Homo sapiens: one gene and its partners. The protein of the gene in region 3 purifies or fractionates together with the protein of the main gene of each other region. This does not show direct contact. Each region holds a gene or a part of one and is shown on either strand. Other genes may lie near its edges. The genes, in order: TPM4, MYO1B, HACD1 and ATP2B1.

Region 1 (7,381 bases), on a different chromosome or scaffold from region 3:
GCTGAATTCCTCACCCGGGGCCAAGAGGACAGGTGTTTTGTTTTTCGGTGCTTGCTTGTGGGATTCTGGTTAAGCTTCTCACCTTCCCGCCAGGAATGTGTCACGGCCAAACACTGACAGGAGCAAAAGCATTTACATACTGACCGGGGGAGCCTGCCTTCTGGAGCAGGTCAGTGTTCTGTTAAGATGGCACAGCCCCCTGAGATATCCTCTCTGGGAAAATGGGACTTCTGGGCTTCCCTGCTGCCTCCTGTCTCACTCCTATTTCCTCATATCTTTGCAGAAAGGGTCAACACGTGGGCAGTGCTTCCCATGGCAGTAAGAACAAGTCACCACCTCTTTGTCACAGAAGCCAAGAGAAAAGATGAGCCATGAGCCCCTGACGCCCGTCCACTTGAGCAGAGACCCCGGTCAGAGCCAATTCCCAACACAGCCAGCTCCTTCCCACTCCGCCCCAGGAATCGAGCCAGCCTCGCTCAGTCCTGTTCTGCCACTCACAGTTCAGACACCTCCGCACGCTCCTCTGCCCTCTCCAGCTCACCCTCCAGGATGACCAGCTTACGAGCTACCTGCAGAGACAGAAAGGCCCAGCTGAGCCCGATCCCCACCAGCCGTGTCCTCTCCCATCCACTGCAGACAGCCCCCAATGATGCCCCACCCAGACCCCTAGACCAGCTGCAACATGGGTTTTTCTGGTGTTTCTTTTTTTTGCAGGGGGACGGAGTCTCCCTCTGTTGCCCAGGCTGGAGTGCAGTGGCACAGTCTCGGCTCACTGCAACCTCCACCTCCTGGGTTCAAGCGATTCTCCTGCCTCAGCCTTCCAAGTAGCTGGGACTACAGGCGCGTGCCACCACGCCCAGCTAATTTTTGTATTTTCAGTCGAGATGGGGTTTCACCGTAGTGGCCAGGCTGGTCTCGAATTCCTGACCTCCTGATCCACCTACCTCGGCCTCCCAGAGTGCTGGGATTATAGGCATGAGCCACCACACCTGGCCTCTTTTTTATTTTTTTATTCTTTTGAGACAGAGTCTCGCTCCATCACCCAGGCTGAAATGCAGTGGCTCAACCTTGACTCACTGCAACCTCTGCCTCCTGGGTTCAAGTGAATCTCCTGTCTCAGCCTTCCAAATAGCTGGGCTTACAGGCATGCACGACCATGCCCGGCTAATTTTTGTATTTTTTGTAGAGACAGGGTTTCACCACGTTGGCCAGGCTGGTCATGAACTCCTGACCTCAGGTGATCTGCCTGCCTTGGCCTCCCAAAGTGCTGGGATTACCGGCGTGAGCCACCATGCCCAGCCCTTTTATGTTTTTGACAGAGGGTCTTGCTCTGTCTCCAAGGCTGGAGTGCAGTGGCGTGGTCAGAGCTCACTGCAGCCTTGACTTCCCAGGTTCAAGCGATCCTCCTGCCTCAGCCTCCCAAGTAGCTGGGACTACAGGTGCATGCCACCACACCCAGCTAATTATTATTATTATTATTTTTAGAAATGGGGTCTCACTATGTTGCCCAGGCTGGTCTCAAACTCCTGGCCTCAGGTGATCCTCCCGCCTCGGTCGAAGTGCTGGGGTTACAGGTACGAGCCACCGCGCCTGGCCTTTTGCTGGCGCTTCAACTGAAAGAGCCATCCTGGGGCCTGGAGGAAATCCTGATTCTCTTCCTCAAGCCTGAGGAGCGAGGCAGACAAGAGGCGGGAGGGAAGAGCCGAGCCATCGAGGGAGGCAAAGGAGGGCCTGAGCTTGCATGGTCTGAAACTCCATGGCTTGGGACCACAATCCTCCATTTTTGCCCAACTGTGCCAAAACTCCCAGCTAACGACACAAGTGAGCTGATCATTCGGTTTTCCCATTACGTTAGACAAGCGTCCGCAGCACTTTCTGGCATCGTGGGAGATAGTTTCCTAGCCAAGTGGTTGTCTCTGGACAAACATATGTTCACGCAGGAGGACAGCTGACCTAACCGAGAGCTTCCTTTCGTTGGCCCCGGTGTCCTCCCTATCTCAGCAGATGCATTTCCTCCCACTTCCTGCTGCTGCGCCATCTGCCAGCCCCACTCACCTCCTCGTATTTGCGGTCAGCCTCTTCCGCAATGTGCTTGGCCTCTTTGAGCTGCATCTCCTGAATCTCCATCTTCTCCTCATCCTTCATGGCCCGGTTTTCTATCACCTTCATTCCTCTGCAAGGAGCAATCTCATCAGGACGGCCGTTCACTCACACCCCTCCACCCACCTCTCATCTATCTTTTCTTTCAGATGGAGTCTCGCTCTGTCATCCAGGCTGGAGTGCAGTGGCACGATCTCAGCTCACTGCAACCTCCACCTCCCGGGTTCAAGCGATTCTCCTGCCTCAGCCTCCTGAGTAGCTGGAATTACAGGCACCCGTCACCATGTCTGGCTAATTGCGTGAGACACCACCCCTAGTCCCATCTCTCATCTAAATGAGTCTCTGAATCTACTGAGCACTGTAACACACTGCAAAGATGGAACTCTGTGCACACATTTCCTTCATCTTGGTTTTTTTTTTTTTTTTTGAGATGGAGTCTCGCTCTGTCACCCAGGCTGGAGTGCAGTAGTGTGATCTCAGCTCACTGCAGCCTCCATCTCCTGGGTTCAAGCAATTCTCCTGTCTCAGCCTCCAGCATAGCCGGGACTATAGGCATGCACCACCGTGACCGGCTAACTTTTATATTTTTAGTAGAGAGGGGGTTTCGCCATGTTGGCCAGGCTGGTCTGGAACTCCTGACCTCAAGTGATCTGCCCGCCTTGACCTCCCAGAGTGCTGGGATTACAGGTGTGAGCCACCGCGCCCAGCCTCCCTTCATCTTTACTACCAGGCACTTTTCTAAGTGCCTTCACTTTCACAACTGCCCTATGGAGCAGGTAAATTATCCACATTTTACAAATGAAGAAACTAAGGCATAGAGAGAGGGTAAGTAACTTAAGGTTACAGAGCTGGTAAGTGGTAGAGCTGAGGCTCAGCCCTTGGCAGTCTGACTCCAGAGTCTGTGCCCCCTTTCTTTTTCTTTTATTTTGAGAGATGGTGTCTCACTCTGTTGCCCAGGTTGGAGTGCAGTGGTGCCCTGAGAGCTCACGGCAGCCTTGTCCTCTCAGGCTCAAGCAATCCTGTTGCCTCGGCCTCCTGAGTAGCTGGGACTATAGGTGTGCACCACTGCACCCAGCTAAACTAAAAAAAAATTTTTTGTGGAGGTGGGGGTTTTGCAATGTTGCTGAGGTAGGAGGATCGCTTGAGCCCAGGAGTTCAAGGCTGCGGTGAGTCGTGATTGCACCACTGCTCTCCAGCCTGGGTGACAGAGCAAGACGTTGTGTATTTATTTATTTTTTTTCTTGAGACAGGTTCTCACTCTGTTGCCCAGGCTGGAGTGTAGTGGTGTAATCATAGCTCACTGCAACCTTGCCTTCCTGGGATCAGGTGATTCTCCCACCTCAGTCCCTTGAGTGGCTGGGACTACCAGCATGCACTACCATGCCTGGCTAATTTTTAATATTTTTTTGTAGAGATGGGGTCTCACTATGTTGCGCAGGCTGGTCTCAAACTCCTGGGCTCAAGCGATCCGCCCGCCTCCCAAAGGGCTGGGATTACAGGTGTGAGCCACCGCACCCTGCCAAGACCTTGTGTATTTAAAACAAGAAAAGAAAAGAAAAGAAGAGGCCAGCCTGGGATAATGTGTCATTGATATGTATCATTCCCACCCAGCACAGAGACCATATGCTTCTTGCTGTCCAATAAATATGTTCACGTGGGGTGTCACCCGTTCTCAGCTAAGTCTCAAAACACCCTCCCCCACCTGTACGAGGTCTCACCCTCAGCATGTGAGCAAGCTCTCTGGGTTATTTATTGCCCCAAAACCCCTTGTAGTACCCAAGAGATCAAAGTGACTTGCCTAAGGCTCCATAGAAAGTGCCAGTGGTAGAAGCTGACTCTAGATCCCCAAGCTTCAAGTATATAATTCTTTCTACTGAGACACAGCAGTCTTTAACAGGGGTGTCACCAAAGGCCTCTGGGGACATGGTGCAAACAAGAGACTGGCCTTCGCAGCCTCCCTTGGTTTGCCAATATGGGAGCCCTCAACGTCAGCATCCAGCCAGGCTGGTCTGACTGTGAACAGCAGCTAACCCAGGCCACAGGCACAGCCAGGAACTCTCGTGACTGGGTCCTTCCACTGCCCCGTGGCTGCCGGAGCTGCCACTCTCTCCCTTGATTCAGTGGCTGAAGCAGAGTCTGCAGTAGCGTCTGTTCCCTCTGCCCTGGCTGTTCCACTACTTGGGAAGAAATTTCCAGCTTGGGTGACATGCAATCTCCAAGATTCCTTAGCTGGTTTCTAATCTCTGGTTAGTGGTCACAGCAGCACAACCAGAAATGCATCTTAAATTAGCTAGGCGTGCCAGCACTTTGGGAGGCCAAGGCAGGTGGATTACAAGGTCAGGAGCTTGAGAACATCGTGGCTAACACGGTGAAACCCTGTCTCTACTAAAAATACAAAAAAATTAGCCGGGTGTGGTGGCGGGTGCCTGTAGTCCCAGCTACTTGGGAGGCTGAGGCAGGAGAATGTCGTGAACCCAGGAGGTGAAGCTTGTAGTGAGCTGAGATCACGCCAGTGCACTCCAGCCTGGGCGACAGAGCGAGACTCTGTCTCAAAAAAAAATTAGCTGGGCATGATGGCATGCGCCTGTAGTCCCAGCTTTACTCTGGAACTCTGGAGGCCGTGGCGGGAGGATCGCTTGAGCCCAGGAGGTCGAGGCTGCAGTGAGCTGTGATCGCACCACTACATTCCAGCCTGGGTGATAGAGTAAGACCCTGTCTCAAAAAAAAAAAAAAAAAAAGAAATGAATCTTTGGGAGGTGTTTATACTGCAAAAGCATGGTGGCTGGCTCAAGTGAGAACTCCGGTGTGAATGAGGGGCAGACGCGATGATCACTGGTCGGGCCCACACCATTGCCACACAAGGAACTCCTTTTCCACCACACACAGACTGCTGCTTCTGTGAATTACACAATCTACCCTCAGTCTTCCAGAGAGCCTGTGCCAAGGCGTGCCAGAGAATGATCTGGCTACCGAGGAGAAGGCACCCTACTGGTGGCTGGGTTGCAGCACAGATACCATGGGCGGGTGAGGAACGTGGTCAGTTTCTTTTTGAGACAGAGTCTCACTCTGTTGCCCAGGCTGGAGTGCAGTGGTGCGATCTTGGCTCACTGCACCCTCTGCCTCCTGGGTTCAAGCTGGGGGATCTTGCCTTAGCCTCCTGAGTAGGTGGGATTACAGGTGCCCGCCACCACGCCCAGCTAATTTGTGTATTTTTAATAGAGACGGGGTTTCACCATGTTGGCCAGTCTGGTCTCAAACACCTGACCTCAGTTGATCCACCCGCCTCGTCATCGCAAAGTGCTGGGATTATAGGCGTGAGCCACGGCACCTGGTGCATGGTCAGTTGCAAGTACATTAACCATGCTGGTTTGCAACTGTCCCTGAAATAGCTGTCACCGTCCAAAAGCCTAAAGCCTGACAGCTCTGCTAACAATCACCTGTGCATCCCAAGTTTCCTTTCCTCCTCTCCACAGTACTCTGCTTTTTTTTTTTTTTTTTTTTTTTTGAGACAGAATCTCATCTGTCACTGAGGCTGGAGTGCAGTGGCACAATCTTGCCTCACTGCAGCTTCAAACTCTTGGGGTCAAGTGATCCTCCCACCTCAGCCTCTTGAGTAGCCAGGAGTACAGGCGTGCACCACCACACCCGGCTAATTTTTGTATTTTTTGTAGAGACAGGGTCTCACCACATTGCCCCAGTTGGTCTTGAACTCCTGAGCTCAGGCGATTTGCCCGCCTCTGCCTCCCAAAGTGCTGGGAGCACAGGCAGGAATCACTGCATCCGGCCTACCTGAAATTTGGTGTCTAGAGAACACTAAGAGGCACTGTGGCTTTCAGAGAAAATACGAGAAGCAGTGCTTTGCAAACTGACCACCATGGACAGTCATACTTGCAGTCTCACATCTGCCCGTTCTGTTTGCCTTTCTGTCTGTCGGAAGTTTCTTTTCATGGTTACCGTAAGGATAAACACCCCTCACTTTATTTTGAGATGGAGTTTTGCTCTTGTTGCCCAGGCTGGAGTGCAATGGCACGATCTCGGCTCACTGCAGCCTCTGCCTCCTGGGTTCAAGAGATTCTCTTGCCTCAGCCTCCTGAGTAGCTGGGATTACAGGTGCCCGCCACCATGGCAGGCTAATTTTTTTGTACTTTTAGGAAAGACGGGGTTTCACCATGTTGGCCAGGCTGGTCTCAAACTCCCAACCTCAGGTGATCCGTCCGCCTTGGCCTCCCAAAGTGCTGGGATTACAGGCATGAGCCACCGTGCCTGGCCACGGATAAACATCTCTACCCATGGAGTGATGGTTTACAAAGTGCTGTCATGCACTTTTTTGTGGACACATGCATGTCCTTGTGACCTTGTTTACTTTCACACCAGCTCTGCGAGGTCGGCAGCATGATCCCCATTTTCTAAAAGCAAACACGGATGCCACCAGATTCAAAGCGTCCTTACCTCTCACTCTCATCTGCAGCTTTTTCTGCCTCCTCCAGCTTCTGCAGGGCCGTGGCCAGTCGTTCCTGAGCCCTGTCCAACTCCTCCTCAACGAGCTGGATGCGTCGGTTGAGGGCGGCCACATCACCTTCAGCCTGGGGAGGTCGGAGGTGCAGCCATGTTAAGAAGTATCAGGCCAGCCACCAGTGGGAGCCTCCCCCATGTCCTGCCCTCTGTTAACCTGATCTTCCCCGTCAAAGCCCACCCAGGAGTCCAGGCCATAGGGAATTTACACTCATACCAAAATTTCAGTATGATCTTCCCGGAAAATGTCTGGGAAAAACATCTACCACTCCATAGCAAAAGATGAGCATCGCCAAGCGTGGTGGCTCATGCCTGTAATCCCAGCACTTTGGGAGGCTGAGGTGGGTGTATCACAAGGTCAAGAGATCGAGACCATCCTGGCCAACGTGGTGAAACCCTGTCTCTACTAAAAATAGAAAAATTAGCTGAGTGTGGTGGCACGTGCCTGTAGTTCCACATGCTCAGGAGGCTGAGGCAGAAGAATCACTTGAACCCGGGAGGCGGAGGTTGCCGTGAGCTGAGATCGTGCCACTGCACTCCAGCCTGGTGACAGAGCAAGACTCCGTCTCAAAAAAAAAAAAAAAAAGCGAGTGTCCCAGTACAAGATGGGTAGTTGAGTCAACATAGGAGTCAAACATACCATGTGCTTTGAGATGAATGTCAGTGCTGGTCTCTCCAGCAACACAATAGACCCAACGTTAGGCTAAGATCTAAGATAGGCTCTTCTCTGAAAAAGGCACACAGTGTTACCACGTAGAGAGTTCTAGGG
Region 2 (7,381 bases), on a different chromosome or scaffold from region 3:
GTAGATGGGGCAAAATAGAAACAATACTAACACTTTCATAAATATCCTGAGCAGCAGAAAAGCTGATCAGAAATTATCTTTTAATAATATACGCTAATAAAAAAAATAAAGTACCAAGTTCTAACATTTTGAAATTAAAGGTAATTCAGGTACTATATACTTTTTACAAATGTATAATCAAGAAGTTTTTTTCCCTTTGAAGTTTGCAATTTTATGAAAAAGGAAGTATTAGCTCTAATCAATATTCTTTCAGGATTCTAAAGATTAATCAATTAAGATTGTTTTTAGCATTGTCTTTATATATTAGACATAAAATTAATTCCCCCAAATATTAACCAAATAAATAAGTGTTTTAAAAAAGTAAATATTTTCCCTAATGTCATTTCAAAATCTCAAATAATTCATTATTTTTGCTAAATGGCTTGTGTTTTTAAAGCCTTAAGTCTTTATTGACTCTTAATTTGTACTGGCAAATCTCCTTCAATAGTGTTAATAGATATTTTTTATAGGATAGCTTAGAGTTTGAAAATAATAAAGATGATTCAAAAATATATTTAGACTCTTCATTAAGTCCATTAGCTTTGCTTTTGATTTTCTGTATTAATAAGATTTTAGTCAACATGGTCCAGATTCTATTTCTATTGAACATTTATCGATTCAACCACTTTAGCAGCTCAATTTGTCCTCACAAGTTAATGGGGTTTCGAACGCCCATCTCTGAGGTACAGCCTCCTTGCAGGGGTAACTTGGCAGGCCTGACTGGGTGCTCACAGCTCCCCCATACCTTTCCAGCATAATGCTGGATCCTGAAGCAGCTGTGAGGCAGAGACGTGTCATTGAGGAACCGAGAGCACTTGCTCATCCTGCTCTCAAAATGCTGGTGGGTGGCACATACTTGGTTCAGCTTTTCTAAGAAGGTCTCATCAGTGACTGTGCCAGGTCTGAGGCACTCTTCATCCAGCATGGCCAGGATTCCATTTGTGTTCTGGGAAAACGGAAATAAAAAAGTTTCCTTCCTTCCTCACTATATTGTTTTAATAATTATTCCTAATTACACCATCAAACACAATCAACTTAGTCACAAGAAAAGTCTGTTCAGTTATAACAAAAAGCAGAGACTCAAAACAATAACAAAAGCCACAGGAATCAGCTCTTTCCTGAAGGATCCCAGGTGTGTGTATGGTGGTGTGGTTGGGAAGAGTGTGTCTTCTTGGTTCCTCTCTCCTCGCACAGAACAACAGTACCTGGGAGTTGCCTCAGACACCTTAGCCTGATGATGACTGAAATTTATACTCTTACAAAAAGACAAGTTGGACCTCAAAGATTCAAAAAGAAATCTAAAAGCAGAAATGAATGTGACAATACAGCCTCTATAACATGTCTCAAATCACAAAGCAGTCTTCTAAGGCCATTATTTGATTCACTCCTAAGAAGGAAACTCGTTTTCTATGTTTCCAAATTGTTCATGTGTTCAAAATAAAGTTTATTTCCTAGAAAAAAATGCTGTGATTTGAGATGCTGCTTTTAACAATCACTGCAATCAAACTGATTTCAAGAATATCTGTTTCATATAGATTTAGATTTTAGAAATTCATGTGGAATTTCTAAATGGATGTTAAACATAAGTGAAAATTTATTTGTTGCATATCTAGACCCTGTGGTCATTTTTATTCCAAGAGTAGTCAGCCCTAAACTGAATCAGAAGTCAGGAAGCTTCTACTTTGCTAAATAAAGACTGCTACTCCATGGACTGCCCCTATGGGGTCATAAGTCTTAATTCCAAAAACAATCCACTCCACTGACCATCAACCCCACCTACTTCCACCCAGGCAAAGTCCTCTGTTCCTCTCCCCTTCTGCTAACAAGGCCACGACATCCTCTGACCAGCATTTATTCATTCCACACAAAACCCTGGGGAAGCGTGGACTCTCAGGAATCAAGTGTGTTCATAACATCCCCAGAACAAACATTATTGTTTAATGATGCTGGAAGGAAACATTTCCTTTATATACCCAGGTTCCTATGTGAACATGAGCTTCTTCAATCATATAGCAAGGGGATTTTTGGCTGAGATAATCTAGTTAAATTAAGTGTATTACCACTGTTCTTTTTCTCCTCTTCTTAAAAGAGAATAATTAAATGCAAGGTTATATTTATCAAAGAAAACATACTAATCAGAAATTCTGAAAATTAAGATTCCCATAGCAAATTACCTCCTTCACAAAATGTACCAGGAAAATTTTCAGGAAATTCACTTTTCAGAGCCAAAATCAGAGATCTGAATTGCTTATGTGGAATATTAGTGTTCCCATTCAATATTGTTCAGATTTTTTGAAACACAGTTTATTTCTTATTGAAAAATAGTGATGCCTTAGAATATTGTTTAATTTAATCAGAGAAACAACTTTTAGGAATATCTTGAATACTGAGGAAAAAAAATACTGGCTAATTACATATTTCCCAAAAAGCTTTGTAAAAGATGAGTAGAAAATGATTTAATATTCATTCAGAGCATGTGACTGTATTCCTGAAACACAGCACTCATCTCACTAAACTGGTCTTGCTAAAAAGACTGCAGGATAATAAGGCTTATACACTGTTTCAAATTACTTATTCAAAGTCAGGTATTAGTAATCCTAAGCATAAATTAGTTTCCTGTTTTCCACACACAAAATCAGTCTTCCTACATTTAATTCATTTACAATAAACTACGGAATATGATCTAAAAACAAAAATCTTGGACTCAGAAAGCTTACTCGAAATTATCCAATAATTTTTCACACTTTAAGCCTTTTTGCATATGCACATACTTGGGTCATCCGAAAAATTCCAGGTCCCTGGCCACCTGCAGTCACACATGCAATGCCCTCTGCATGTATGATCTGAATCAATGCTACAGCTGCACTTAAGCCACTTCTGGGGTCCCACTTAATTCAGCTCCAGAGGTTGTCCCTTTATGTCACTTAAACTTAATATAATACCCGGTGAATAGTATGTTAAGAGGTCATTAGAGTTTTGGGAATGAAATGGATATTTTGATTTGGCAAAAAACTGGATGGCTGCTCAGAGCCTACTCTGATCAGTACTCACATGCCCAGGAGTCATGGAATAGACCTGGGCTCCAACCATACAAGAAAGGCTGGTACCTTTAAGGCCTGGTGTCTGAAGGTCATAAAAGGGTGTTGTGATATGGCCACTGGGGATCCTGGCTAAGTATCAAAACATCCAGCTGTCTATGTATGTGTTCAAGAACTGTGTATGATCTCTTAGGGCTACAATAAAATCTCTAGAACTCTGCAGTTCCTTAACATATATATATATGTGTGTGTGTGTGTGTGTGTGTGTGTGTGTGTACGTGTATATATATATATATACACATATATATGTGTGTGTGTATATATATATATATATATATATATAAAAAACAGTGAAAATACTAATGCTTAACATTGAGGCACTGAGAACATTTATAAGGGTGAATTATAGGACTAAAACATTCTTTAGAAAACTGTACCTAAGTACTCACATTTTCTATTAGGTCACAAATGATAGCATTATTGAAGTAGTCAATGTGAGTCCATTCTATATCCTAAAAGACAAAACAGAACAAAATCCAATGACACAAGATGAAGCCACGACACTACCATCCATAAAACAGACTTTGACCATCTTATCATATTTCCCTTCCTCTCTGAATTTATTTTCTTTATAGAATGGGTACTGCAAATGTCACAGGCAGTTCCCAAAACTTTCTCAATGCAGCTGCCTACCACTGACATAATCTGATTGAAGCAAACACCCTTGACCTGTTCTGAGACTGCCTTCCATTCCACTCTCCCATCTGCAGCAATTTCCCATGCACTTCACTGGCCCTGGGCCAAATATTTACTCAACAGGCCCTTGGGTCAATATTACGTTGTGTATGTTTACAATGTTTATAAGGAAATAAGTTAGAACTTGATCCCAAGAATTTAAAGCCTAGATTCTTCTGTTCTGAATCTGTAATCATAAGGAAAAAAATTAATTTTAGAGTCAATCTTGTGTTGTAGGGAAGTTAACTCTTTCAAGTGTTAAAAAAAACAGGCCAGCGCTACCACAAAGTATTTTCAACATAAGGAAAGACATGAAAATCTATCCACTGGTTCTAACACTGGCTACAAAGCCAAATCCATAAAGCCAAATGTAATCTTTCTGTGTCTACTTAACATTCTGTCCATAAATGTAAACATTTATTTGTCTTCTATTCATTACAGCAAGCTAGCAATCTTCCTATATATTCTTAGAAGTGTTTTAAACAATCTGTATAAACTGTTTTAAGTTACCCATCAAAGTTTGGGCATTCTCTTCATGATGAGAAGACAGGAAAAGAATGAATCGTGCTTTTAGAATATTTATGTTACTAAAAGGTGCCAGACAAGTATAAAACATTTCTGAAGCATAATGAGTACTCTAAAATAAAGATGAAATATTTATGATTTAGCTTTTGAGTAAATGGGTTGTTTTACTAAGCCACTGGGGATAACAATCACATTAGAAAAATCTATATGGAAAGAAAGATAAAAGAGAATTCAGTGTCCTTAATGGCTTAAAATGATACTAAGAAAATAAAGGAAAACAGGTAATATCATTACTAAAATATTAAGGCAAATAAACAAAAAAGGAAATAAAAATATAAACATAACAATTCCTTTTTATTTTTTGAAATAACTAATTTTACACTTGAAAAAAGACTGGCTATTTTAAAAAATAAAAGGGTGAAAAGCAAATATATATTTTTAAATTAATGATGAAAAGACTCTGCAAACACTACTTCTGGTTATTTTAAGATTATATTAAATGAGATAATCTATACATAGCACTTAATATAATACCTGCTATGTAGTAAGGACTCAGTAACTGTTACCTATTTTTACTATAAATTTGAATACTCAATACTTTTTGATATTGAACAAAGTCTCAAAATATTTTCAAATCTACTTACAGTGATGCTGACTTTTTTGGTATACAGTTCTCTAAGTTTTGGCAAATGTATAATGTCAAGCAACCACCACCATTATCAGTCCCCAAAATTCTCTTTGCAGCCACAACCCTCTCACAACTCCTATCTCCTGGCAATCCCTGACTCTATAGCTTCTTATAGGTAATCAGTCTCTATAGCTTTGCCTCTTCTAGAATGACAGATGGAATCATACAGTATGTAGCCTTTTGAATATGGCTTCTTGTTTAGGCTATCTTCTGAATTAGAATTTATATTACGAGTAAAAAAGGACCAACACTTTTAAAAATAGCATTTCAACATTACCTCCCGTATATACTCCTCCTGCTCTTCTTTAAGAGTAAGTTCAATGAAGATTTGTTGCAGCTTTTCGTTACAATAATTAATAATGAACTGCTCAAAGCTGTTGTCCTGTATGGAGAAAATGAAAAACAGCTTTATAAACCATGCCACTAGCTCTCTCAAAACAATGACACTCAGACATCTCAATCCATGAGAAATGCCACACATGATCTCTCAGATTTAACTGTGGCCCAGCACACGGCTCCTAGGACAGACGCTTGCCCATTGCAGGCACTCGAGGAGTGGGTCATGAGTAAGTGAATGAATGAAGTATACACAAATGATGCAATATTTGAAGGATGAAGACTTTTAGTTGACAGAGAAGCACCCCAAACAGAAAAGCTAGAAACAATCTCACTTCCTTTGCTGAAGGATCAGCAAAGACACAGTGAGCTCCACAATCTCTGTCACCAAGTTCTGAATCTCCCATTCTCAGGTGAAACTTCAGAGCTCAAGGAAGTCCCCCTGAACTGACCCCTTATTGTCCCCATCCAGGGACAGATCCCTCACTCTGACTCTTGCATCCTAACCCTTTTTGTAAATCATGTTATACGAACATGTGTGTATGTGTAAGTATACACATGTACAGATTAGTTTCATATACATCTGCCTCACTAGACTGTACATTCTTATGGGTGAGGGCTGACCATGCTCTCTTGTTCACTGTATTCCTACCCCTTACACAGCACCTCACACCTAGCAAGTTCTCAATATGTATTGGCTGACTGTATGAACAAATGAAGTTCCTACCAAATGGAGACCCAAAGATTAAAGCATCTCCCTGACAAGAAACAATCTCTCTCTCTGTAGAAGGCCCATACCCTTGATCACTCTTAGAAGTCTCAGCAGCCTCTCCTTCATATTAATCTCTTATGAATTTGTTGACAGAAGCTTTATGCCTAAATCATTTCTGAACAATCTGCAGGGCTTAATGTATTGCTGTACATCCTGAGAGCACCAAATGAATAAATTTATCAAGAACCACATCGTCCAGGAAGAAGTAGATCTGACACTAAAACTTGTTTTCACCTCTATTTTTCTTTATCGCCCAAAGATGGTGGCAGTGGGAGCGAGGGATAGTATGACTCCACCACTGGTAAACTGGACTCTTCTCCCACAATGGTGGCCAGTCCTGGTCTAATGAGGAAGGAGAGCCCACATGTAATGGTGCAGCCAAAGCTCACTGCTCCTTGTGAACAGGCAGAGCCACTGGCCTTCAAATCCCTCCATACATGATAGAAGTGAAAAAGTCACAGAGTCTTCTGAAAGTTGATCTTTAAAAATCAACTTTGGTCTTACTTAGGAAAACTTAAAAATGATACTTATGCTGCAGCATCTAACTACATTCTTTCCTGGAAGTCAGCTAGGAATTTCTAATCACCAGTGATGCAGTGATCAGAGGAAATTTTAAACTCAAACTCATAAATAACACATGTGAATATATTGTCAGTGACTTATCTTGTTAATGCTAAACTTAGTTAAGGATAAAAGTTTGTTTGTTTTATGTCTTGAAGAGTCTTACTAAAAGGCAAACATTTATTTTCAATAATTTTGACAAATATAGTCAGATACAAAGGGCACTCCTCAGTCCTCATTTTCACACAAATTTTTTAAAACCCTGTGCTCAAATTCGCAGAGCTAACAATTTCAATTAGAAACTGAAGTTGGTCTAGTATAGATGCCTTATTATTATTATACTCAGCATAAAGGCATTCCATATATCAGAAAGTCTCAATTGCTTTGCTAAAGTATGTCCCTATATGATGCAACTATAAATAAAACCTATAAGTAAAAGTAAAACATTAATAACTTATAAGAGCAGATCTTTGACTTTTTTTTTAGACAACAGTCTCATGGAACAAATGTGTTATCTGGCAAGTCTGTGCCCATGGAGCTATTTCAACCCTATTATGCTAAATCATCAAACAGCAAATAATGAGAAGGAAAGGAAAGCACTAGTGTCCTCAGACACATTGTGTAGCTATGAACAGCTCAAAGTACACTTCTAAAACAGGACCATGAAATACACACAAGCAGATTAGA
Region 3 (7,381 bases):
CAAACTTAAATACCTTGATAAAAATACCTTCATAATGACCTGGAAGACCATGTTTGAGTTTAGAATTCTGAACTCTTTGGAATGCTGCGCCAGAACATTCCAGCACAGGGAAAACTGGCCCCACCCAGCCTCCTCTTCTCCATTCTACTGGCTGTATCCTGTACTGCAAGGGGTCTCCTGCACATGTGTGAGGATACCCGGGTGCATACATCTAAGCTTCATCCATACCCCTCACAAACAGCTGCCCCCTGGCTATCCTGTTTTCTCAGGGGTGCGTATACTGATACATGGTTAACCCTCAGGACCATGGATCAACGAAGAAGCCTGGTTAGGGCCCAGATGCATGCTCATTGCCCTCTGGGTAGCAAATTCCATGGTCTCAGGTTTCTAGAATGTGATCTAGAAGGCAGTGGGGTGCTGTGTGGAGTGACCACAGAAGAGCTACAGCAAGGTCCTCTTAACAGAGCCTAAAGCAGAAGCTCCTCCTGGCTGGGTGTAAGGGTATTTAATCCATTATATAATAACACATAAATACATACGTTATTAGGTCAGTTGGACAAATTGTCATCTGTCCAGTCAAATTTGAAGAATATTTTGAACCAATTTGAACCAGTGTTTCAAACCAGTGTTTCATAGTATAAATGTTGGTGGATAAACAAATTAATATCAGCTATAAACAATGCCAGTGTAAAAATATTTCTGAATATGATGATCAGAATAATCAAACCAATGAACCTTATCACAAAACAAGCTTTGAATATCCTGCTTAGGCAACTTTGGATAAAAAGTCTTTCTATTTAGGTTCTTCCTAACTTAAGAAAGGTTACCATCACATTATATATACCTAGGGGGCTAAATTTACTCAGGTCATAATTACTTAAACTCACTGACCAATTATTGTAAATACTTCCATAAAATTCCGAGTAGCTGAACAGAAGGTATGGGCTTGAGTTCAAACCCTGCCTTAACTCACCAGCTACTGATTTTTTTTTTTTTTTTTTTTTTTGAGATGGAGTCTCACTCTGTCACTCAGGCTGGAGTGCAGTGGTGTAATCTTGGCTCACTGCAACCTCTGCCTCCCCGGTTTCAGTGATTTTCCTGCATCAGCCTCCTGAGTAGCTGGGACTACAGGTGCCCACTACCATGTCTGGCTAATTTTTGTATTTTTAGTAGAGACGGGGTTTCACCATGGTGGTCAGGCTGGTCTTGAACTCCTGACCTCAAGCAATCCTCCCACCTTGGCCTCCCAAAGTGCTGCGATTACAGGTGTGAGCCACCACACCAGGCCACAAGCTAGTGATTTTTAAGCAACTCACTTAACCTCTTTCATCTTAATGTAAATGAGAAATAATACTACTACTTTTGAATACTAAGTACTCAAAAAGTACTTTTAATTAGCAAAGGATTTAATAAGTAAAATTAATTGATTTATTACTAACATTAAGAATGCAGGGGGAGGAGGGAATTAAAAAAAAATGCAGTGGAAAACATGTTCTGGGCTGAGTGATTCTCTGGCCAGTGGGACTCAGTAGCTGGCAGCATGGTGAACTGGGAAGCTGCTACTGGTACAGGCCAGAGTCTACATCTCCCAGGACAACTGAAAAAGGTGCTTCAGGCTCTCCATTTCCATGGAGATGCCTCAAAAGCCATGAGGAGGAAGAGAACCCACTGTTTGAACCTGTAACTGTCAGACAGACACCGAAGCAAGCTCTGGTTCTGTTCAAGTAATGCTACCATTAACCTGCCATTGGGAAAAGAGAGGGATGTGAACCAATAGAGTAGGCATCCCCTCCTTAGCTCTCCCGAACTGGCTGGGGTAGAAAATCAGATACAGAATCAGGCTGAAGTGGTAGAAGACAAGGGGAAAACATATCTTTCACCACTAAGTCAATTTTGACTTTGGGAAAGATACAAGTTGGAGACATCTGCCGGGGGCAGGGGCTCATGCCTGTAATCCCAGCACTTTGGGAGACCAAGGTGGGTGGATCCCTTGAGGTCAGGAGTTTGAGACCAGCCTGGCCAATATGGTGAAACCTCGTCTCTACTAAAAATACAAAAATTAGGTGGGCACTGTGGCAGGCGCTTGTAATCCCATGAACCTGAGAGGCAGCGATTGGAGTGAGCTGAGATGGCGCCACTGCACTCCAGCCTGGGCAAAAGCGCAAGACTCTGTCTCAAAAAAAACAACAAAAAAAAGTTGGAGACCTCAAGGGGCTGGCCAAGTTTTATGCGCATCTCCTTTAGATGAAATAATTTGTATCATGTCGATGTAGATTTTAGAGCTATCAATATTTGACTTAAAAATATATCACTATTAGCCCCCACGCCTTTTTTTTTTTGAGACAGAGTCTCACTCTTATTGCCCAGGCTGGAATGCAATGGCATCATGTCAGTTCACTGCAACTTCTGCCTCTCAGGTTCAAACGATTCTCCTGCCTCAGCCTCCTGAGTAGCTGAGATTACAGGCATGCGCCACCATGCCCAGTTAATTTCTGTATTTTAGTAGAGACAGGGTTTTGCCATGTTGGCCAGCCTGGTCTCGAACTCCTGACCTCAGGTGATCCACCTGCCTCGGCCTCCCAAAGTGCTGGGATTATAGGCATGAGCCACGGAGCCCTGCCTCACTATTAGCAGCACTGAAATGGAGTAAAGCCTTACCAATTCACTTCAACTGCTGAAAGATGATGAGAAATTAGTGAAGAGGCTGACTTATTCAAAATCCTTTAAGAAAAGAGGCTTTATTATTTGCAAGTACATAGAGCAACACAAATAAGACTCAAAACTACTCCTAGATGATTTTTCCAAGTATATGCTTAATGAATAGATAGAAATGATCTGAAATTTTCTTGGACACAGTGTTTATACTCAGACATATAATTCTAAATGCTTGTAAAAAGTGCACTAATGCTTTAAACATGATTTGTTTTTATCTTTCTTTAAAAAAATCATACTAAGCTGATGTTTAAATGATTTTGAGAAAGCAATAATCCATGCGTTAATTTACCTGCCTTTATTCTCATAGCTAATGAACTGTCTTCTGCCTCTATCTCCCTTCACTTTTCCCAAATTATCAGTAAATATGGAGTTAAACCGAAGTTTTAATGTATTTGTAAGCAATTATTTCTAATTATTTCCCCTTGCATATTATTATATCCTTTCAAAAATTTCCACATCATATGTCAAATCAAAGTACTAATAAGTATATACTTACAAGGTATATATGATGCCATGGTTATAAGAAGAAAATAATAGTAGTCAAAAGAGACATTGTATTTGTTAGGAAGTCTTATTGAAAACATTCCTGTTTTCTTCACATGCGGCAAGGCAGCGTATATTGTAAGAAGTTCACCAGCAACTCCAACAGGATATAAGATGATAAAAAAATTATATCTGGAGAAAGAAAAACCTCAGAGAATTATTTTTCTACAATAATTATTAGACTTTACATTGCAGGTCTATTGCTACTACTAAATTTAAACTTCAAAATTCTCTTTTCTTTACATATTTACAATAACCTTACGTAAGGTTAATAGTTCTACTTTAATCATTTGCTTATTGATTATCATCCTTTTTTTCCTAATACCAGTTTCCATAATAGGCAATGTCTTTTTAATAAAATAGTATCAACTTATTTTAGAGTACCAAAATACTTTTATGTATTAAAAAATGTATATGTAGTTTTTCTTGTTTTTGTTTTGAGATGGAGTTCGCTCTTGTCACCAGGCTGGAGTGCAGCGGCACAGTCTTGGCTCACTGCAACCTCCACCTCCTGGGTTCAAGTAATTCTCCTGCCTCAGCCTCCCAAGTAGCTGGGATTACAGGTGTGTGCCACCATACCCAGCTAATTTTTGGTGTTTTTTTTTTTTGTTTTTTGTTTTTTTTTGAGATGGAGTCTTACTCTGTCGCCTAGACTGGAGTGCAGTGGCACAATCTTGGGTCACTGCAACCTCCACCTCCCGGGTTCAAGCAATTCTCCTGCCTCAGCCTCCTGGGTAGCTGGGACTACAGGCGCCCGCCACCACGCCCGGTTAATTTTTGTATTTTTAGTAGAGACAGGGTTTCACCATGTTGGTCAGGCTGGTCTTGAACTCCTGCCTTCAGGTGATCCACCCGCCTCAGCCTCCCAAAGTGCTGGGATTACAGACATGAGCCACCATGCCCGGCCTATGTAGCTTTAAAAAAAGTATTGTAATGGTAACTTCTTTGGTGCATAAAATCACAAATGACTGCTTTTGTCCGCGGCAGCTAGTAATTTATTGATCAAACACTGCGTTTAAAAAGACCAGTGATTATCCTAAATTTTATATCTAAACCTTGAAATTACCAAGGTAGTTATTTTTAAGAGGCATTTGAAAAAGTCTTTGTGGTTACTAATGAAAACCAATTATTGCAGAAAACTGATAATACCACCTGAAGCATGAGTAGCTACTAATGAGTATATTATATTGTCTAAAACTGCTACCGTAACAAAATAAATTGACAAGTTAGTTCCTGAATTCCCACATTAAAAGAAGAGTGAGCTTGTTTAAAGTAGAGTTAAGAAAGTTCTACTCTAAATCCAAAGTCATCATGTGTTCATTTGGTCTGTGGCAAGGTCTGGAACACACAGTAGGCCAGGCATCCTGTATGCTTCCAATTAGGAAACACTCTGTGTTCTACTGGCTGGTCTCCAATAAGAGGGGCCTAAAGGATCCAAGATGATCATATTTCTTCATTAAAAAAAAAAATCATTTTTCTCTGACTCAGTCACTATATAACAGTTACCACAGAAAACTTAAGAGGCCAGAGTGCAAGACCACTCTGGGCGATATAGTAAGACCCCGTCTCACAAAAAAAAATTTAATGAGCAGACCACAGTGGTGCATGCCTGTCGCCCCAGCTACTTGGGAGGCTAAGGCAGGAGGATTGCTTGAGCCTAGGAGGTCAAGGGGGCAGTGAGCCAAGACCGCACCACTGTACTCCAGCCTGGGTGACACAGCGAGACCCTGTCTCAAAAAAAATAAATTTAATTTAAAAAAAGAAAAATGTTTTTAATTTAAAACAAAAGGTCAACATTTTGATGGAAAAAGAAATCAAATTAATCTGTATTTTATTTAATCATTTTGTTGGCATTAGGAAATATCTATAAAGAAAAGTCAAAGTTGTCAGTATTGAAGAAGCTTGGAGACAAATTAAAAATTGCATTATTCCTGTATGTCAAGGATATGCGAAGATAAGAGATGGGGAGAAGGGCAGAATTATTTGCCAAAATAGATGAGCTATTCAAGAAAGAAGAATGATTCCTTCACTGTACCTGTTAATCCCTTCTTGGCCTTGGAGAAACTCCCTGCTTTCTTACCAGTTTTGGGTAGTTATTTGTGTATCATTTAAATCAATCTTTCCCTATTCCTCAATTTATTAAATCCCATAACTGGACATTTTATATACCTGTCTCAGTAAAATACCCAAACTGATTAAGTTGCAATTTTTACTTTATGTGGTTTTCAAAAGATTTTTTTTTTTTTTGGCAGGATTGTTCTTCAATAGAAGAAAAAATTAACACTCCTACAATAAGCTAGTTGAAAGTCTTAAGGGCAATGAAAATTTCTAATGAAATGGGAACAAATTATATAATTTGACTTTACTTGCACTTCAAAAAGATTGCATGTTACTACTTCTCTAAGTTCTGAGGGCAGTATGGGAGATTTAACTATGGATAGACCACATTAAAAAAAAAGATACAATGCTTCTTTGAAGGTTCCCAATTACTATCTAAAATTTTTTTGAAGGGAGTGCATTTTAAATCAATATGAAAAACCTAACTTAATATATACAATTACCTATTCTGAGGACTTTTCCAAGAACACTTATGACACATAAATAGAATCAAAGTATATTCAAACTGTAACAATAGGCCAAACTACTTATAACTAAGAAGCCATTTCTAAAGTGTAGTTTTATTCGAGAATGACAGCTTCAACATCTGAACATAAATACAAATATTATTTTACCTTACTTAATGGAGTTGGGAAACATATTTAGATGGCTGGGATTTTTAAGATCTTTTTGACATGAAACATAATTATTTATGATTATGATCAACTGACAAAGTATTATGTAACATATGATTTCAAAGCTGAAAGACTGTATAACTTGTTTAACATTAAGGCAATGGATAAACACTTTCTTCTTTTGAGACAGAGTCACGCTGTGTCACCAAGCTGGAGTGCAGTGGTGTGATCTCAGATCACTGCAACCTCCACCTCCTAGTTCAAGCAATTCTCCTGCCTCGGCCTCCCAAGTAGCTGGGATTACAGGCACATGTGGCTAATTTTTTAATTTTTTAGTAGAGATGGGGTTTCACCATGTTGGCCAGGCTGATCTGGAACTCCTGACCTCAAGTGATCCGCCCACCTTGGCCTCCCAAAGTGTTGGGATTACAGGCATGAGCCACCACGCCCAGCCTGCAATGGATAAACACTTTCTAAACAGCAAATTTAAACATACGATGGCAGAGTTTTTATCTTTTCCAGACACTCAAGACATGCAAATGCATTCCAAAAGACAGACACACAAAGCCATCAAGTCTAATGTGCCAACCTCAGGAAAATATGCAATGTACATTCTGCTATCCTCTTCAGACAAATTTTGTAAATTCAGCACATGAAAAGAGACTATATGGTAAGTTAGTATTTTCAAAGGTGCCAGAGGTCCAGAACATTGTCATGCGAAATGATATTGATGTGTTCTAGGATTAGAGTCCAGCTACATTCAAAACTGCCAACCTTTAAAAAGCTCAGTCACTAAAGGTAAACACATTTTCATGTACAGTAAGATTAAAACCAACCAAATCCATATAAATGGTAGTACAACCTTCTTATGACAGACAAGACACTTAAGCTCAAATTATAATTTCAAAGTATCTCATCATATACAAAGTGGTAAGCCGCAAGTGTCTAAAAAAGAGCTAGAGAATATTAAAAAGTCACAAAGAGTATATAACATGGCCAGGCGCAGTGGCTCACACCTGTAATCCTAGCACTTAGGGAGGCCGAGGTGGGTGGATCACTTGAGCTCAGGTGTTCGAGACCAGCCTGGGCAACATGGTAAAACCCCATCTCTACAAAAAATACAAAAATTAGCCAGGTGTGGTGGCCTGCACCTGTACTCCCAGCTACTTGGGAGGCTGAGGCAGGAGAATCGCTTGAGCCCAGGTGGTGGATATTGAAGTGAGCCGAGATCGTGCCACTATCCTCCAGCCTGGGTGACAGAATGAGACCCTGTCTCAAAAAAAAAAAAAAAAAAAAGAGAAAAAAACCCATAAAACACAATTAACAGTGGTTATCCTTGGTTAGAGAGATTATAAGTAATTTAAAAGTGGTTTTCCTTCTTTTTGGTTTAT
Region 4 (8,124 bases), on a different chromosome or scaffold from region 3:
AAATAAAAGAACATTCTCTAATAGTTTACAGTGCTTAATAAGTAACTTAAGTAACCACAGATGGATCTTCTGAAAGACTGGGCATACATAGATAACAGAAATATTTTCAATTTATCAGTTCTAGGATTGTCACAAAAACCATCGACATCAACAAATCAAACTTTGCTACTGATTTAGGTATCTCTACCATGTAACTTTAACTTAGTTATAAATGCAATGTCAATGTTTCTCAAAATGCAGACTACTGTAGCATTTGGCCCCACCTCAAATCTGCTGAATCAAAATTCCAGGGGCAATGCCAAGGAATCTGCACTTTCAGTAACTCCCCCAGGTGATTCTTCATGCACATTAATGCTGGAGAACCACACCTTTCTTGTGAGATTTATAACCAGGTTTTGGATTTCAGGAACTAAAACCTCCTCATTTGGAACCTTTTAAACTAAATTTCATTACAGAACAAATGAATATTTCAAAGAGATTTAGGTAATAAACATGTTATAGTATAAAAACAAGTGCATAAAAAGTTACAGCAGAAATTTAAAGAAGAAACTTTTAGTACAGCACATTTTATTTTTATTCAAGATTTAAGACACCCCTAGGCCAACAGTTCTTTGAAATCAAAATTCCTAACTTAAAAAAATCCACAATATTAAAAATATAGTATTTCAGATACGTTCACATTCACTCAGCTGTTAAGTAAATCAAAACACAAACTGTTTGTATTACACCAAATATAAGTAATGATTAAATTTATAAAGCTCAACCCAAACAAACCCATTCATATTTCTCTATTAAATTTACTCTGATCAAAACTGATTTTCCATACATAACTTTCATAAACTTACATAAACGTGTATAATGAGAAGAGCAATGAGCAAAATCTAGAAGCCACCTAAAGTCCAGTTTGGGCTAAAAAAGCTGCTAGCTATATGACCTTAGGGCCTAGACAAATCACTTTGCCTACCAGAAAAAAAACAAAAAACAAAAAACAAAAAAAAGTACAATTGTCTGCCTTACTCACCACACAGGATTATTGTGAGAATCAAATGAGGTCATATGTAAATACATTCTGAAAACTGTAAAGTAGTTAATAATAATACCTGTGATTTCTGAAGACAGCAAAATTTGAGAGACACTATCTTTGGGCACCTGCTGTAAAATACACAAACTACCACCAGAAAAATTAAAATGTATATGCCACTAAAGAATCAACGAAGAACATAAAAACTGACCATTCAGATTTAATTAGATATTGGACACTATTGAGTATACCGTATTCTGAAAAATACAAATACAAAAATTCGATTCGATTACCTGTCCTATGTCCCCATTTATAACAGAACCATTTCTTGTGTTAAGATATAAATGAAATGTGATGGACCACGAGAGTTGGTAATTGTCAAAACTGGCCAGTAAGTATATCATTCTCTCTACTTTCCTATGTTTGATAATTTCTATAATAAAAAATTTTAACAAGACAACAATATATGTGGTATGTATAGATAACATTTCTAAAAGCTAAAAAGTGAATTTTTTAAAGTTATTTATCTTTATGAAAATTATTCCCATAACCATTGTATGTTATTTTCCTGGCAATGTCACCTCAGATTCCACCTAGTCCCAAATAAGCTACTATTAGTACCTTTATTACATATCATGACAGCTACTAGAAAATAATTATTCCCTTCCATCTGGTCAATACTCTTGCCCGAGATGCAAAAACCTAAATGTTTGTTTCTGCTTTCTGATCCTCAGTCCTTTTATTGTTTTTTGCTCATCCATTACAAAATTCCAGAATAAAAAAGTGAAAACATCAATTTTACTGTATTCATGTGTAAAATGTAAGGGAAAAAAACCAAATATTATTTTGTTCAATATTACAGAAGACCAATAGTTATAAGTGGCCGTTCCTTTTAAAACTCATTTCCCATGGTAAGAGACTGTTGCATCTGAAATGAAGTTAACATGTCTGTCAGTCAAAGGAAATTAGTAAATCTTACTCTGAAATCAAGGAATCTATGAAAGTATATATAACAACATATAATTACTCTACATGCAACAATCTAATAGCTCAAATAATGTCCTTTATCCCGGGGCCATATTCCATAGTTCGACAGAGAACACATAGCAGTAAGGGGATAAAACACCTTTCATCTCAGAGTTTTTGGCTAATTTTAGTTTAATAAAGACTTATCTACAGCTCAATAGCCAATGCTTTACATTGTCTATAGAGAAATTGCAAGTGTTGAATGAAACCTTAAATGCAGATAGAAGGGCAGTAATATTTTGCGGTTTGTAAGTAAGACTATATGTAATAATATCCACATCTTAATTCATTACTTGGGAGCTAAATCCCTTTTCTCATGTTACATCAAAAAAGGAGGCTGTGCCTAAAGAGACAGTGTTCCTTATACTTATGATTTGGGAAGGAAGGGAAGGGAAAGAAATCTCAACTGTCACTACAGTAACTCTTTTCTAAGTATTAAAATCTCCATTTATTTTTACATGAGATGCACCTGAGAGGAGCCATGTATACAAACCACTTTTTCTAACATGGTCTTTATTAAACTTTGAATATAAGTACACCTGCTCGAAGTGTTCATCTATATTATTTAAGAACAAGCAACTGTAAAACAGTAAAATCACAAAAGGTAAGTTGTTGGAAGACAACAAAAAAGAATTACTATATCTGATCCTGCGTGTTTATTTTAGAATCTGTTAATAGGCCTACAGCTAAAAAAAAAAAAAAAATTGTAAAGCCACTGTCATACTGGTAGGTACCTTTATTTGGTGGCAATGGCTAGTTCAAACCACCTATTAAAAGCAGCTATTACTTTCCTTCTTTTACCAAGAATATCCAGACCATCAATATTATTATAAACACAAATCAAAACTAGTTTCTCATCTCATCTCAGAATGCTAAAATCCCAAGCTTCAATAAAAAAAAGATTTCCCATACAATTGCAGAAATTTCTCTCAAAAGAGAAATGAGAGAATACAGAAAAATGAAGACAATTCCCCCTTACACGTCAAAATGGGGATGCCAATAATGACAGCTGCGATAAAAATCAAGAAGGCGTACCCCGAATTTTCACCATTTTAATAAAAGAAAATCACGAAATTTTAAATTAAAGGTGGCGCTCTGTCCTCAACTCACCCGAATGTGACTCACTTTTGCAGACTATATGGTAGGAAATTAACAGTTACTTTTCAAAGATCTTTGCAGTTACACCCAAGCCAAAATCAGGACAGAGATCCACCCTTAATTACAGCAATTTAGCTGTCTTATCTAAAGCAAGGTAAAAACTAAAACGTCCTCCTGAAATCATAGCTAAATAAGCCCATTTCATATACTAGCTATCAAAGGTTCCCAATTAAAAAAAAAATGTTTCTATTTACTTCAAATTTGAACTCACCAGGAGGATAAAGAAAAAGAGAGGGGAGGAGGAGGACCCAAATGAAACGCACAAGTACAAAAAGCAGATTCTCCTCCAATCCCTCTTAATTCCCCCAATCCACCCCTGCCACACACAAGGACAGGGAGTCTCGGGAAGGCTGGCATCGGGGCAAGTGGTGAAGGCCCTCCATTCACTCACGTGGGCCACCATCCAAAGGGTTACACACCCTCTGCCAGATGAGAGCCTCATACAAACCAGGCCCTTACAAGTACTTCTTATTATAAAATACACCCACGCTGAACAAAAGCCTTATTTTAAAATAAGACTGTCCTCAGGTGGGGGAGGTTAAACACAACAAAGGCTTCCATGTTGACAGGCAGACAAGTTCAGATATATGCATATACCTACACACGTATGAAAAAAATCTATGTAGCTAATTTATCACGAACAGCAATCGATACCAACAGAAGCCATTAGATTATTAATAAACCAAGAAAAGTAGCGGGCACAGAAGCGAAAGGTGGCTGTCTGCAGCGCTCTAACCCAAAGAAAAGGTAAATATCAGCCTGTCGAGGAGGGTCGAGCCCTCCAAGTACCTGCAGACCCCTTTAACCCACCCGGACGCCCTGCCCTCCCCTCCGAGCCAAGCAGCGCACAGGGTGCGAGCACTCCCAGCGCTGCGAGTCCCGCAGAAAACTGGTGAATGAAATGCGCACAGAGACCAACCTGGCTGGTGACCGCGGCGCAGAACCAGGGGTCGCTAACCAGCTTAGCCACAGGATTCTCCCGCAGGATGGGATAAAGAGAGCACAGCCCCCACCCCACACCCCTGCCACTGGAACGCGGTCCTCCTACAGACTCCTTCCTCAAAAAGGGAGGTGGGGGCGCAGGCTTTTTTCTCTTAAACTAAGTGAATAAACACGAATCGGAAACAACTGTGAACATCCTGGGGGGCCAGACGGAAGGCGTGAGGAGAAAGACCAGGCGGCTCTCCAACTCCCGAGGAATCACCGTCCTGACACGCCAACAATCAACCACCAGGGCCAGGGGCCGACCAGGGGCCCCCGCTCCCCTCCCGCAGTGCGTCTGGGGGGCCGAGGCCAAGGATTAGAGGGGTGACCCTCCCGGGGCGCGGGGAGAGGGAGTGCCGGGCACGGTGCCCTCAAGGTCACCACGCGCCGTGGCGGGGGCGACCGGTGGCGGGATGGGCTGTGGCGCGGCCGAGGCGGCTTCGTGAAGCCGAAGACCTGCGGGTGTAGACCAGAAGCCCCAACAAGCCCCATCCCTCGGGCCCGGAGCAGCGACTCCCAGACTGACCCGGCGCTGAGGTGCACGGCGAGAAGCCCGCTCACCTTCACAATCTCCCGGCAAGAGGCAACCTGCGAGGGGCCCCGACCGCCCCCGTCAGCTTCTCCCGAATCCGGCGCAACCCGCTGCGCACCCAGCTATCAGGATCCCCGCCGCGACGCCCGACCTCCGTGCTCCGCCTGGCCTCCCCCGCAGGTGACCTGCCCCGCCGCCCCCGGCCGCGGGCGGGCGGCGGCCGCCACTCACCTCGCCCGGCAGTGGGAACCATTTTCCGAGGGGGAAGGAAAGGCAGGCTGCGGGAGGGTCGCGGGGCGTTAAGGGGCAGCGGGAAACGCAGAGGATGGGGGCTCCGTCCTCAGCGCGTCCGCAGCCGGCTCGCAGGGCTCGGGGCGCCACGCGGAGGTGCAGCTGCACCTCGGGGATGGGGCGGCCAAGGAGCCGAGAGGCTCGGCGTCCACCAGCCGGGGCTCCCTACTCACGCTGCACTGCGAGGAGGCGGCGGCGGCAGCGAAGGAGGAGGAGGCGGCGCCCGGCCGTCCCCGCCCAGAGCCCGGCAGCCACCGAGTGGCCGCCCGCGTCCCCGCAGGACCCGCCTCCTCGGCTCCGCAGAGCGGCACACAGGGCGCGCCGCGCTCGCTCGGCACGGGCAGCTCAGCCGGCCTCACGCCGCCGTCCGCAACAGCAGCCGCGGGCGGGGTGCAGCCACCTCCGTGAGCGCCGCAGCCCGCCCCACTCGGGGCGGGGCCCGCGGGCACCGGAGAGCGGACGGCCGAGCACGAGGGGGCTGCGCGCAGCTCCGGGCAGGGACCCCGTCTGCACCGGGTGGCCTGCAAGATTGCCGGGGTAGGCAGGGGGAGGAGAACGCTCACCCGTTCCGGTCTGGCGCTCCCTTTTCTCCACACCCACACGCCTCCCGCTCCACGCTGGCGGCGCAGCTGCTCCCGCTGCCACAGCCGCCACCGCCGCCGAAGCTCGCGCCGCCGCCGCTGCCGCCTTGGCTGAGCGCGGTCACGTGACGCGATCCGCGGGGAGCCTGGGGGCGGGCGAGTGCGCGCGCGCGCGCGCGGAGGAACCGCGGCTCGGACCGGGACTGGGAGCTGAGCGGCACTGGGAGGGCGTTTAAGGGGAGGACCCGGCGAGCGCGCCCTCGGCTGGCGAGCGCGCGCCTGGCGATTAGAACTTGCCGCGCGGTCGGGAAAGGGTGGCCGGAGTGAGGGGCGGAGGTGGGGACTTGCGCCTCCGCACGCCCCTCCCTTTCTTCCTTCCCCTGAGCGCCTTGGCTTGCCGCTGCCCCCGCCCCCTCCAGCGCGCCCCTTCCCTCCTGCCGCAGCCTGCGATTGGCTGAGAGGCTCTGACGTCCGTGTTTCCATGACGTGTTGGTGCAGGAGGGAGCGGCGGGGGAGGAGGGGGTGGCCAGGCGCGCGGGGAGGTGACTCCGTCAGTCACAGCTGCTGTTTCGGCGCGGGGCCGGGCCGCTGCCGCGACGTGTGGAGGCAGGAGAGCGATGATTGCCGCAGGAGAAGTGCGGGCGCCCTTCACCTGGGGCCCCTCCCGAACCGCCCCCGGGCCCATGCCCCTCCAGGGCCCAGGAGCGAGCCAGCGGGAGGGCGAGGGCGAGCGCTCCTGGCGAGGACAGATTAAGGCGAACCCCCAGTCAGCGGACATTTGAGCGGCTCCTCGCCGCGTCTCTGCCCCCACTCCAAACCGGACTCGACGCCTGTCCCGGGCCGTGACGCACGCACCGGAGGAAAAAGTGCTTCTCGGCTCGCTCCCTCTTTGGGGAAGAGAGCTCACTCCCCATGCGGGCGCGGGACACTCCATCTCTGTTCCTGCCGGTCGGGTCCGCAAACACCGGGGATCCCAGCTGCGGCGCCCAAAGGGTTAACGCAGGCGTTCGGCCAGTGCAAACCGGCCTCGCAGGATCCGCGCTTAAAATCCGGGTGTTTTCATTTTGGGTTTGTTTCTTCTACTATGCCAAGCTGGTGGCTCTCTTTTAATTCTCTTGTAACATCTCAACCCTGCACCCATCTTTCCTGAGGGGAAAAGGAAACGGGATAACTTGCGGTATTTCGATGCTCAAAGGTAACCGGCGGCTCTGCTCCAACCTTCAAGAGATTTTGCAAGTTGAAAAAAAAAAAAAAACCATCCTTCGTAACATCTACTTAAAAAAAAAAAAGCAAGTTTTCCTTCTTGTACACGCATATACACAGTAAAGATGTGTATCTTACCTAAGATACCGCGCTTCATCTTCATCTAATCTTTATTTGAACTCACCGTCGCCACTGGCCCAGAGACCTTGTCAGTGTTATTTTCAGTATCAGTTAATCAGAACAAAAAGATAAGTTCTGCAATCTTCTTTCTCTTAATTCCAGAACTGGAAAATTAATATTTATATAGCCTCCTCAAAAGCATACAGGCAATAGGAAGTATGGTATTATGTTCACGATCTGATGATAGCATTTGTTTTAAAATATTTTAAAAGATTAGACACAAAATGTGTAAAAGACGTTTAAAAGTGAATAAATATAAATCAATGCTGTTGCAAATAATTTTTTTATCAGTTTATGTATCTCACTAGGCTTGACATTACCAGCCTTCTGAGCTGTGCCCTTGATGTGTAAGATAAACGAACATTGAACAGAATGATAGCATTTTTCCTCTCTTCAGTCACTGATGGAGAATTGGTTAATGTGGTACAATAAATAGCCCTTCCTGACACTATTTCAAATCTTTTTAACAGAAGAATAACCTAAATTTCACCTAATAAATTTCAATATTATTTCCCCCTAAAATATCTTTCAAAACGACTCAGAGACATTTAAGAATCACTGGCTTTTTTCCAACTTTTCCTCCAAGGAAGTTACAATACAATGTTGAATTATGTATTCTACTTTAATCAAGAATTTGACATTAAAGTAATATGTGAATCATTGCTATAGTACACTAGCAAAATGGGTAATAAACTAGAATCTGTTCACTTTGTGGGTTTGTTCCAGTTCCAGATTATAAAATGAATGCTCTTAAAGTGTTGTGGTCATGAAACAATTATTGAGCATCTTTATTTAAGAACACGATTCAATTAAGTTTTCATTTATATCGATAAATCTATAAATGAAACATACGGAATATATATATTCATGTATATCCATAAATGAAAACGTGTGTGTGTGTGTATCCCGGAACATATTTGTATGCATTTTAATGAAATGTGAGTCATATGCAATGACAAACTTTTACTGTCATAGTCAAGAAAATTGTACTGTAGTTTGGTTTTTATATTTTTATTCTTCAAATAGGAAATAAAGGGTGAAAGCAATATAGAAATAACTGTTCACATTACATTAAGAAATTCAATTTTTTTCTCCCACAGGCTTAGTACTAAAGCATCCCTCACACATATTTTTCAATGTAAAAATCA

The links.
Region 1: the proteins of HACD1 (region 3) and TPM4 purify together in Homo sapiens (affinity purification with mass spectrometry; one large-scale study listed by BioGRID and IntAct). This does not show direct contact.
Region 2: the proteins of HACD1 (region 3) and MYO1B purify together in Homo sapiens (affinity purification with mass spectrometry; one large-scale study listed by BioGRID and IntAct). This does not show direct contact.
Region 4: the proteins of HACD1 (region 3) and ATP2B1 purify together in Homo sapiens (affinity purification with mass spectrometry; one large-scale study listed by BioGRID and IntAct). This does not show direct contact.

Annotation. Positions count from the first base shown.
Region 1 is NC_000019.10:16,081,215-16,088,595, reverse strand, and holds part of TPM4 (tropomyosin alpha-4 chain), read right to left. Parts: intron 6,684-7,381; coding exon 6,550-6,683; intron 2,174-6,549; coding exon 2,056-2,173; intron 570-2,055; coding exon 499-569; intron 1-498. UniProt on the Homo sapiens protein: Binds to actin filaments in muscle and non-muscle cells. Plays a central role, in association with the troponin complex, in the calcium dependent regulation of vertebrate striated muscle contraction.
Region 2 is NC_000002.12:191,379,488-191,386,868, reverse strand, and holds part of MYO1B (unconventional myosin-Ib), read right to left. Parts: intron 5,408-7,381; coding exon 5,303-5,407; intron 3,590-5,302; coding exon 3,527-3,589; intron 986-3,526; coding exon 785-985; intron 1-784. UniProt on the Homo sapiens protein: Motor protein that may participate in process critical to neuronal development and function such as cell migration, neurite outgrowth and vesicular transport.
Region 3 is NC_000010.11:17,590,994-17,598,374, forward strand, and holds part of HACD1 (very-long-chain (3R)-3-hydroxyacyl-CoA dehydratase 1), read right to left. Parts: intron 3,391-7,381; coding exon 3,212-3,390; intron 1-3,211.
Region 4 is NC_000012.12:89,703,644-89,711,767, forward strand, and holds the start of ATP2B1 (plasma membrane calcium-transporting ATPase 1), read right to left. Parts: upstream 5,196-8,124; 5' UTR 4,953-5,195; exon of another isoform or gene 4,751-4,952; intron 4,505-4,750; exon of another isoform or gene 4,125-4,504; intron 1-4,124. UniProt on the Homo sapiens protein: Catalyzes the hydrolysis of ATP coupled with the transport of calcium from the cytoplasm to the extracellular space thereby maintaining intracellular calcium homeostasis.